3 linked regions of the Homo sapiens genome follow. The protein of the gene in region 3 interacts with the protein of the main gene of each other region in a pairwise test. Each region holds a gene or a part of one and is shown on either strand. Other genes may lie near its edges.

Region 1 (3,654 bases), on a different chromosome or scaffold from region 3:
TATCAAGTCACCGTGCCAACCAGCAAAGTTGAATTATTAAAACTCCTTTCTGGGGTACCCCACGAATTTTTCCCCGCCGAGACTCAGAGAAGAGGGGCAGCCACTCCCGCCACACAATATTAAAATGTCAGGAGTTTAAGGCCTGCGTTGGTTGAGTCATAAGTTATCAGCACCCAGTGAGGGCCGACAGAATGCCTCCCCTAAATTATTAAGCAGAATGCGTCAGACTGTAATATTTTGCTAAACCAAAGTACAGACACAGACAAAGATGTCATTTCAATATTTGAAACCAGCAAGTTTAATTTAAAATAAGAGCAAACCAATAAGCTCAGAACATAGCGGCGTATGAGAGGAAAATTATACTGTGAGAGGAAAAAAAAGTGGAAGGACTTAAGAAATTTATAAAAGTAATCTCCAAGTGGAAATTAGAAATCAAGGCCTAGAAACAGAATAACACAAAAGAAATATTACTGTCCACTTTCTAAATCAATATAACACTGCTCCACGCCGGAATTACCATGGTAACTCAAGTAAAAAGAATCAAGCAATTCTTATTATTTCAAAATAAAATCACAGCCTGAAGCCTGGGTTTTATTACAACCACTGATAGATCGCTGGCTTGTATTTATCTGAAATATTGCTTTTCAATCAGCTGGTTTATGAATGTACACAGGCCTCTCACCAGCCCACTTACCACCCCATTTTGAGGCTAGGGGCCAACCAATGAATTGATTCTCACCTGGCTGCATCTGCATATATGCTCAGGTCTAAGTCAGCTCAGGGAACACAGAACATCACATCCTTTCAAGCCGTCTAGTGGCTTTGCAGGACAGAGAGGAAAACCTGAAAGAGGCAACGGGGACTGACCTGATTATGGTCCCTCCCCACCGAGGCTGGCCCTGGGAGGAATGGAGCTGGGCTCCCATGGCAGCCCCACTCAAACTGCCCACAGCAACCTTCCTCCCTCCCCAAGTCATCTTCTCACAGGTTCGTCACCCTTCCTTGAACTCTGAGTGTCTTTCTCTCCATCCCCACGTCTGACAGCTGGAAAAGGGAGCAGACAGAGCAGAGAGAGTGAGCGCACTGACTCTGCAGTCAGCCTGCTTGGGTTCACAGCCCAGCCCTGGCATTCTTGAGCTGTGGGAGCTGGAACCAATTACTCAATCTCTTTGTACAATAATTTTCTCATCTGTAAAATGAGGGTAATAGTAGCTTCTTCCTAAGGTTCTTATGGGTATTAAATGAGATTATACATGGAAGATGCTTGGTGGACTGATTACAAAAATGGCCCCAATTCTCTACCCTTCCCCACAGCCACACCATTTGTTATATGACTTTTCACCTCCTACCTTCAAGAGCAGAATCTGCTTCTCCACCCTTTGAACTTGGGCTGGCCTTGTGATTTATTTTGGCCGATAGAATGCAGCAGAAGCGACAAGATCCCAGTGCCAAACCTTGGCCTCAAGAAGCCTTGTGTAGGCTGGGTGTGGTGGTGCGCAGTGGCACAAGCTTGTAATCCCAGCACTTTGGGAGGCTGAGGCAGGTGGATCGCTTGACCCCAGGAGTTCAAGACCAGTCTGGGCAACGTAATGAAATCTCATCTCTACAAAAAATACGAAAATTAGCTAGGCATGGTGATATGGACCTATAGTCTCAGCTTGGGAGACTGAAGAGGGAGGATCACTTGAGCCCAAGAGGTCAAGGCTGCAGGAAGCTGTGATTGTGCCACTGCACTCCAGCCTGGGCAACAGAGTGAGATGTCTCAAAAAAGAGAAGGCTTTTGTGCTTCCACACCTTCCGGACCGGTCTCTGCCATAAGAACAAGTCGGACAAGCCTTCTGGCTAATGAGGGCCATGCAGTCTTGTCACGCCCAGCATCCAACTGATCAGCCATCCTCCATCCTCCAGATGTGAGTGAGCCCAGCTGAGACCAGAAAAACTGCTCAGCCAAGCCCTGCTTAAATCACTGACCCACAGATTTTTGAGTTAAATAAATGCTTATTGTGTTAAGGCTCTACATTTTAGGGTAACTGATTACACAGCAATAACTAATTGATACATACAGATAGCACAATGCCGCACTTTTTTTTTTTTTTTTTTTTTTTTTGAGACGGAGTCTCGCTCTGTCGCCCAGGCTGGAGTGCAGTGGCGGGATCTCGGCTCACTGCAAGCTCCACCTCCTGGGTTCACGCCATTCTCCTGCCTCAGCCTCCTGAGTAGCTGGGACTACAGGCGCCCGCCACCACGCCCGGCTAATTTTTTGTATTTTTGGTAGAGACGGGGTTTCACCGTGTTAGCCAGGATGGTCTCAATCTCCTGACCTCGTGATCCTCCCGCCTCGGCCTCCCAAAGTGCTGGGATTATAGGCGTGAGCCACCGCGCCCGGCCAATGCTGCACTTTTAAGTACGGGTTCAGTATAATGATAGCTATAGTGTTTTATGACTCCTAAAGACTGAGAGGCCAAAGCCAAAAGATGATACTGTAACTGTACAGAGAGCAATGTCAATTCATACAAGCATGAAACTTTCTGGTTTATCAAGTGTGTGCTTGGACATAAAGTGCCAGTTAGGTGTTTCACCCTTTGTAGGGATGAGAAAACTGAGGCCCAGTGCGCTGAAGTCACACAGCAGTCAGCTGGGACAAAACCCAGGTTTTCTGAATCATGCTAGCGGACTACACCTGTAGACAGGAGGCCACTCAAGAAAGCCCAGTTGACCTCCAGGGGAAGGGACAGGAGGGAGGAGCTAGTGACCTGAGCCCATGGGCCTTCACACTGGGCAGCTGCCTCTGCGACCTGGACCAATCTGCTCACTCCTCTCACACCACCTGCTTTTAATTTGCCCCCAGTTGTATCAGCTACTGTGAACTCCTGCCTTGGACAGAACACAAAACGAACACACTCCCACCAGTAGCGAACAAGCTTGTTGCTAGGTTTGGTGGATGTGTCTCTGAGCATGGCCTGGAATGGCCTGGGAGAAGCCTCAGCCAACTAAAGGAGAAAGGGCATGCCAGGCAAGGAGGACATAGGAACAAGGGAATAGAGGCAAATGCTGAGTCTTCATGGAACCCAAAACCAGAGCAGACATACTAAACCTGCATAGTTTAGTGTGATGGTCAAAGCAGCAGTAGGCCTCAGGCAGGATGCCAGGGTAGCAGAGGTTGGGTCAGACTGGTTGTAATGAGCACCACAAGAAAGATAGCAGGTGAGATGAGAATGGTGGTAGCAGAGGAGAAAAGGGTAGGTCCAGAGTCCCAGATGAATGCAATCCAGTGGTGTGCTGATGCATGCTTAACGACCAAGTCTTTGGGAAAATGCCCTGATTTGTAGTGTTTGCCAACATCCATGGTACAAATACTCCCATTGTGGCTGACTTCAAGCTACCAATGCAGTGTCTCTGAACTCAGAGTTGGGAACAGATGTACAGAATCTCTTGCAAGCCAGGACAAGTTGACTCCACTGGTGTAGTCCAATCCCAAATATGGGCCTGCTGGGAAAACTCACTCTAGCAGCACCACAAAGAGCTAAGCCTGGAAATGGGAGGACACCTTGCATGTCTCAGTGTCCTCCAACTCCAGACAGGACAGGCAAGCAAGATGGGACACATGCCATAGGAACCTCTGGGGCTTCTCCACTTCCAAAGGCCCAGGACAGG
Region 2 (3,654 bases), on a different chromosome or scaffold from region 3:
CTCTCGGCCCTGAGGAAGGGGCTTGATTAACTTGTATACCTTGGTTTAGGAAGGGGAGGGGAACTCAAAGGCAATAATTCTACAGAAGTAAAAACATGCAAGAATCAAAAGAAGCAAATGGTTACAGAGCGATAAACAATTTAAAAGACAAATGGTTACAAAAAGCAACGGTACCAGGTGCAGGGCTCTAAATCCTTCATTATAGTTAGACATAGATGCTATGCCGGACACGAACTCAAGGCTTTATGTTGTTATCTCTTTGAGAAGAATCCTGGGAACTTCAGACGTTGTTGGTGCCAGTACCTTATCAGTTAATTGGGCTCCTTTGAAATGCTGAGGATCTGCTTACACAGGTCAACTCCTTGCGGAAGGGGGTTGGGTAAGGAGCCCTTAGTGTCTTGTAAATTAAGGGGTCAGTTGGAGTTTGTCCGGCTTTCCCAGCTAGAGAGAGTCTTATTTACATGAGAAACAAGGCTAGGTGATTAAAGAGACAAACAGGGCAAAATTTAAAGTAGCGAGTTAGAGTAAAAACAGGGTTAGGCATCGCACTGTCTCCGTTTCTAAACTGCCAGTTGAGGTGCAGGTTCTGTTCGCATCCTCTCCACCCCTGAGCGCAGCGTGTGAAGCTCTCCTCCTGGGAGCCCAGGCCAGCTGGCCTTGCCAGGGAGCACGGAGGAGCCAGCGGGCAGTCAGAGCGTCCTGGGAAGGGCCCAGATCTTGCTTCAGGTTTGTGTTCATGGAGTGCAGAGTAGGGAGCAGGCTCTGCGTCCCTCAGGGTGGCTCCACAGGAGAGGAAGCTGTGCCTTTTGCACACATCTTGGCTGGACTCAAGGTTGAGTTGGGCCAGACCCTGGGACTTTGTTTCCCTCTCCCGTATCTGGGGTCTATGCTGGCGTCTGGAAGCAGGTGTTTCCTCTAATGTGTCTGGTGTTCTAGTTGTTCACAGCCGCAGGGAAAGACTCATGGCAGTGAGTCCCTCCTGGTCAGAGGCAGAAGCGCCCCTCACCTTTGGTTAGAGAAGGACACTCCCTCTCCCTAGGAACTGGGTGGGCGGGGCCTGTCTCTCCTCCTGCACCGGAGCCACCTCACCTCGTTGTCCTCCCGCCTTGGTGGCTCCTTGCGGGGTCTGTCATCCCTATGCCTGCCCTTTGACCCTAGGGTAACATGTCTCTTTTCTCGGGTTGCTTTTAGAGTTTCCATTTTGTTGCTGATTTTTCAGCAGCTTGATTATGTGCTGTTTGGTATGATTTTCTTTCTGTTTATCCTGCTTAGGGTTCACTGAGCTTCGTCATCTGTGATGTCGGCTTTCAGCTCATTTGCTTCGTCATCTGTGATGTGTGGCTTTCAGCACATTTGTAACATGTCTGGCCTTGTTGTAGACGCGTCTCCTGTCTTTGCGTTCATCTGGGCTCCTGGTTCCTTGTGCACCTTGTTCATGGTCTCCAGAGCTCTGCTCATTTTTTCTTCTTTGGCACCTTTCCTTCTGAGCTTCAGTTTGGGTATTTTCTGTTGCCAGGTGTTTATATTCACTGCCTTTTCTTCTGCGCGCTCTGAACCTGCTCTTCATCCTATTTAGTGGATGTTTGATTGTACTAAAGTATACATAACGCAAAACTGGCTGCTTTAACTATTTTTTGGTGCACACAGTTCAGCAGCATGAAGCGCATTCACACGGAGGTGCAGCCATCACACCACCCTCTCCAGAACATTCTCATCTTTCCATACTGAAGCTCTGTCCCCAAGAAACACTGGCTCCCCCTCCCCGCCCACAGCCCCAGCACCCCCATTCCACTTTCTGCCTCTGTGGATTGGACACTCTAGGGATCTCAAAAGTATGAAAGGCTCCAGGAATTTGAGTGTCATATTTGCACTTCTGTCAGAAAGGAGGGGCATCACAGCCTGGGGATGGGGAGGGACCACAGCCCAAGCTGAAGCGGGGGACCGGCCCGAGAGGGGCGCGGGGAGAGCGGAGGCACAGCCTGTCAGGACAAGCTGGGGAACCATTCATCTTTTTGTAGCCATTTTTCCTTGTATTTGACAGATGCTTCTCAGGCAGCATGAAGAAGAAATAAGTAAAGACTTTCCATCCAGTGAGATCCAGCGGCTCCGAGAGCAGAACACGAGCTTGCGAAACGCGATTGCCCAGATGAGGAAAGAAATGGAGGCTCTAAGCCATCAGATTCCTCCTCCCATCCAGACAGCGGCAGAGAGCACAGATGCAAACCAGCCTGACCCAGAGGCTGGGGGAGATGCCGCCACTCCTGGTGAGTAAGTGGGAGAAACGGACAGAGCGGGAGAGGAAGGGGGAGAGGGAGGGAGGAGGACAGACGGGAGCATGGGTCTTGACTGGCTTCAAGGAGGCTTCATTTCAGAGTCCTATAAGTTAACATCCCCTGTAATAAACTCAAAGTATGAAAACTGCTTTTTCTCCAAGAGAAGGGATCTTAAGTTTTATACCAAAAAGCTTTTATATTTGTAAAGTGGAAGGAAAAAATGAGGGTACCTGCTTGACACACTTAAAAACCTGTTTTAGACCTGGACCAGGGCTGGCTTGCTGTCGCGCTGTCCCAGAATGGGTTGGTAGCAGGGGCTGGTGGACCTCAGTCCTTTCCTCCAGAGGAGCGTCTGTGGCAGAGCTGATGAGGGCCTCCCGACCCCCAGGGACCCCATGAGTGGCTGTGGGTGGGCAGATGCCGGGATGGAGGCAGAGCTTCCGTTCTCGAGATGGGACTTGGCCCCTCTGCACAGAGGCACGTGGGCTGGCGGCAGGTGGAGCATTTGCTCCTGATCACTGAGCCCTTCCTGGAGAGCATGGAGACTGTGCTGGTCTCTGGCTGGCACACTCTGGCCAGTGAGGGGAGGGAAGGTCTTTCAGTCTGACACACACAGAGAGTGTGGAAACTACGGTGAAGCTGTAGTGTGAGGAGGACAGGGACAGTGAAGCTGGCGGGCATGAGCTGGCATCGGCTCCCTGAGCTGGTGCTCACAGGAGGGAGGTGCGAAAGGATGCTGTGTATGTGTTATATTCACTGGAGGTTTTTTTGGCAGATTATGTTCTGGCCCTTGAAGCAGAAATACGAACTCTAAAGCATAAGTTTAAAACTCTGGAAAAGCATCTAGAAGATGTGTTGGATCCTTTAAAGATGTCCTCACCTCATGCTGAGTCTCAGCCCAGCGTCCGCACCTCGACAGAGACGACTGGTAAGTCCGCGTCTCAGTGGGGTACTTGCTGTCCCCTTATAAACTGAAATCTGACCCCTGCAAAAGTCCGCTCATAGCAAATATACAGCTCAAGGCTACTGCAGACGTTGGGGCGGCGTCATCCAGCCCAGCAGCCCCTTGTGCTCCCTCCAGAGCCCACGTGCCCTGGCTCCTCACTGCAGTCAGCGTTCCCTGTTTTGGTGTGAATGGAATTCCTTGTGCTCCCTCCGGAGCCCACGTGCCCTGGCTCCTCACTGCAGTCAGCGTTCCCTGTTTTGGTGTGAATGGAATTCCTTGTGCTCCCTCCAGAGCCCACGTGCCCTGGCTCCTCACTGCAGTCAGCCCTCCCTGTTTTGGTGTGAATGGAATTCCTGGAGCTACCTCCAGAGCCCACGTGCCCTGGCTCCTCACTGCAGTCAGCGCTCCCTGTTTTGGTGTGAATGGAATTCCTCG
Region 3 (3,654 bases):
GACTACTCTCTCACTTAATGTTTTAATAAAGCATTTACATTTCTAAAAAGCAGTTGGCTGAGTTACCATAGCCTCTGACTTATCAGCCATCAGCACCTAAAGAAATTATTGACTTGCCTGGTTATGTACCAGGGAAGCCACCACTCATCTAGTGACAGCTCCCCAAAATGCAACTGAAAACCATTATAGGAATAATCTATGTTCAAGATCATGAGCCCGACCAATTTAACCCTATTTTAGTAATGGGAAATTCCATGCTACCCATTAAGCTCTCATTTCCAGAACAAAATCATTTTAAATGCAGGGAAAGACTGCCATGTTATAAAAATGACTATATTCCATGAAAAAAAGACCTCATCATTTAAAAACATGAGAAACAAAGAACAAGATTCTTCAAGGAGTTAACCCCAAACCACCACTTTGAAGCAAAAATCTCACATTACTTCAATATATGAGTTAAGTGATCCAGGTCCCAAATCTAACTGGATACACACACAGTTTTTAAAACCTTTATAAAATAAATTTACACATTACCTGGTAATTGTTTTGGTTTTGTGATAATCTCAATTGGTTTGATGATGCAAAATGAGGAGAAAAATTACTCCGTAATGGATTGGTATTACTGTACATTGTACTAGATGCTGTATGTAATGAGGTCCGTGGTGTCAAATGGTAGTTTCTGTTTTGATACAGTACATTGTCTGACATATCTCTAATATTCACCATTTGTGAATTTGGCATATTTCTTCCTGGTCCGGGCAAGGTTGTACTTTGGTTCTCAGCTCGAAGGGAACTGCCACTTTCATAAAATCTCGAATAGCTTGGTATCTGTGCTCTCATCGATGCCAGCTCTTCCTCTCTGGCATATTCATCCTCAGCATCTCCAGTCTCCATTGCAATGGACAAACAATTTCCTTCTGCTGAGCTAGGCTTCTGTGGGGCATTTCCTCCCAGAATTCTCTGGGGGTAATCGCTAACTGCCAATGAAAACACTTCACGGATTTCCAAGTTTTGTGTTCTACAGTAAGGGTCTCTAATAGTTGGCTTTTGCCCACATAAGTTATGTAATGCTGGGCCTGTGTGTTCAGGCTTATATGACCTTTGAATCCCAACTGGTTCAATTTTACAAGGTCGGTGGCACACAGAAGGCTTTTGAGGTACTGTCATTTCAGAAGCTTGTACTGAAGAGTTTCCATAGTTTTTCTTTGCGTGATTGAATACTGAGTTTCCAGCATTTAGCACACTTGTCTGTCTTGACAAAATAATTGTTTTTTCACCTAGGAGTAGGGAAGCATTTTTACAGTGTGCTACTTGTCTTTGGACAGGAATGTGTAACTGAAACTCAGTATCATTTTTAGTGGCTGTTTTCTGAATAGGGATTTTATGTGCTTCTGTAATTTGTGTGTCTGTATGTTTGTTTGTTCCTTGCCTACTTGATGAACTGGCTGGACTGTATATACCAGTTACAATGACATCATTATTGGCAGATGTCCAAGAAGACTGCTGGCTTGAGGGTCGAGCAATATTAACCACATTTCTGACTGTGATGTCTGGAGCTGACAAAGAGGTTCCTGTTGTTGCTGTTCCAGATTCAGAGTTCTTACTACTCATCTTTCTTCTCTTATTGCCAACCCACGTCTGGAAGGATAAAACATGGTATTATGAAAAAAAAATTAAAAACAAACGAAGAAAAAACAAATTTTACGTGGTACATTATATTTTCATTTGTCTTGGAACCAAGGTGTACATAAAGGTAAAAGAAAAAGGTAAAATAACAGAAAAACTGACTAAAGTACAAAGGCAAAAGATGATCAGGGACTCACACTTAATAAATACCTTCAAACTTTGAAAACAGAGTGTATTATTGTTTCTCTCCTCATAACCCATCCAACTAATATGTATCAAGAAACCTAAAAATGTTTATACACTTTGACATAGTAAATACATTTGTGGTAATTTATCCTAAAAGTAACCTACAAATGTAGATAAAGTTTATATGCAATGATGTTCATCATATATTTATTTATAATACTGAAAAATTAAAAACATACTAAAGGTAGGCTATTTAATGGCATTAAGAAATGCTCATAGTATTGTTAAACAAATACACATTTGCAATCTTTAGACTCATCAACTTCCATTTTATAAATATATCATAACTTGCTTAATTTCATACTATCAGATTATTTATAGTATTTTTTGAAATATTCTTTCTTATAAGTTATATTGCCATATACCTCATCGTAGATGCATCTTTGTACTGCTGCTCTATTAGAATGCAATACTAAAAGAAAAATTGCTAGGCTCTAATATTTTCAAAGTGCTCTCCAATGTATGAGTTCCGGTTTCCTCACACCCTCACCAAGAGTTTGCCTTATCTTTTTGTAGTCTTTACTAGTCCAGGAGTTAATAAAAAGTGTATAATTGCTGCTTTGACATGAATTTCTATGGTTACAATATTACTTTCATAGAATTGCCTATCCATTACCTTTACCTATTTTTATATTGAGGTGTTTACCTTTTTAAATTGATTTGTATGCAAGAGTAATTTTCTACTAAAGTCAATAATAATTCTTTGTTACAAGCTGCAATTGTTTGTTTTCAGTTTGTCACTAATCTATGGTAGTTATTGTCTTCTTTACATTTTTCTCAACTTACCAAATTTTATACAATAAATATATATTTTGTAAACAGATTAAGATTATTAATAAAAATAATACTAGTGGTTGGTGTTTAGGATTTAATTACAAAATACATATTTTAATGTAAGTAATTTATTATAATTATCTTAGTATTATTTTTCTGAGTCATGGATCTTCTTAAATTATACAATAAGAAATATATTCTATAATGTGATTACTAAACTTTATAATAATTCCAAAATGCATACCATATTATAAACACCAAAGCACATTAATCTATTAAGAATTAAACAGGCCATGCACAGTGGCTCATGCCTGTAACTCCAGCTCTTTGGGAAGCCAAGGCAGGAGGATCGCTTGAGGCCAACATTTTGAGACCAGCATGGGCAATATAGTGGGACTCAGTCTCCACCAAATATTTTCCTAAAAAACGAATTAAAATAAATGAAAAATGAAAACATTAAATGAACTAGCCTTGAACAAACAATAGTTCAGAGTATATTTGTTTAACTTTTGTATGAATGTGTTTTTGAAGACCACATAAATTGTCCAATTTTCAATGTTTACTGTACATCTTATACAATTTATAATTATATACATTAGTGTTGCTGTACTACTGTAAATAAAAGCTAATATGTATTGAATCCCCATTATGTGTTCTCTCAATAGATAGATAGATAGATAGATAGATAGATAGATAGATAGATTTTCATTTGTCTTGGAACCAAGGTGTACATACAGGTAAAAGAAAAAAATAAAAAAACTAAAGTATAAAGGATCTCTAATAAATCTATAAAGGATCTATAATAAAGGATCTATAATAGATCTATCGATATAGAGTATTATTATTTTATATATTATATATATATATATAAACTCCTTTGGTAGGTGTTATTTTTCTAATTGTGTAAATGAAGAAACTGAGGTTCAGAAATAATAAATAGCTTGTGGAAGGGTATTCTGGGGGCAAGTGAGAGAGCAAAGATTCTGTCAATTCTACCTCACCTGAAAG

Evidence for each region.
Region 1: the proteins of HDX (region 3) and LMO1 interact in binary tests that used the Homo sapiens proteins (3 or more experiments, as listed by UniProt).
Region 2: the proteins of HDX (region 3) and CCDC57 interact in binary tests that used the Homo sapiens proteins (3 or more experiments, as listed by UniProt).

What each region holds. Positions count from the first base shown.
Region 1 is NC_000011.10:8,253,737-8,257,390, forward strand, and holds part of LMO1 (rhombotin-1), read right to left. Parts: intron 1-3,654. UniProt on the Homo sapiens protein: May be involved in gene regulation within neural lineage cells potentially by direct DNA binding or by binding to other transcription factors.
Region 2 is NC_000017.11:82,171,248-82,174,901, reverse strand, and holds part of CCDC57 (coiled-coil domain-containing protein 57), read left to right. Parts: intron 1-2,041; coding exon 2,042-2,264; intron 2,265-3,048; coding exon 3,049-3,201; intron 3,202-3,654. UniProt on the Homo sapiens protein: Pleiotropic regulator of centriole duplication, mitosis, and ciliogenesis. Critical interface between centrosome and microtubule-mediated cellular processes. Centriole duplication protein required for recruitment of CEP63, CEP152, and PLK4 to the centrosome.
Region 3 is NC_000023.11:84,467,938-84,471,591, forward strand, and holds part of HDX (highly divergent homeobox), read right to left. Parts: intron 1,639-3,654; coding exon 535-1,638; intron 1-534.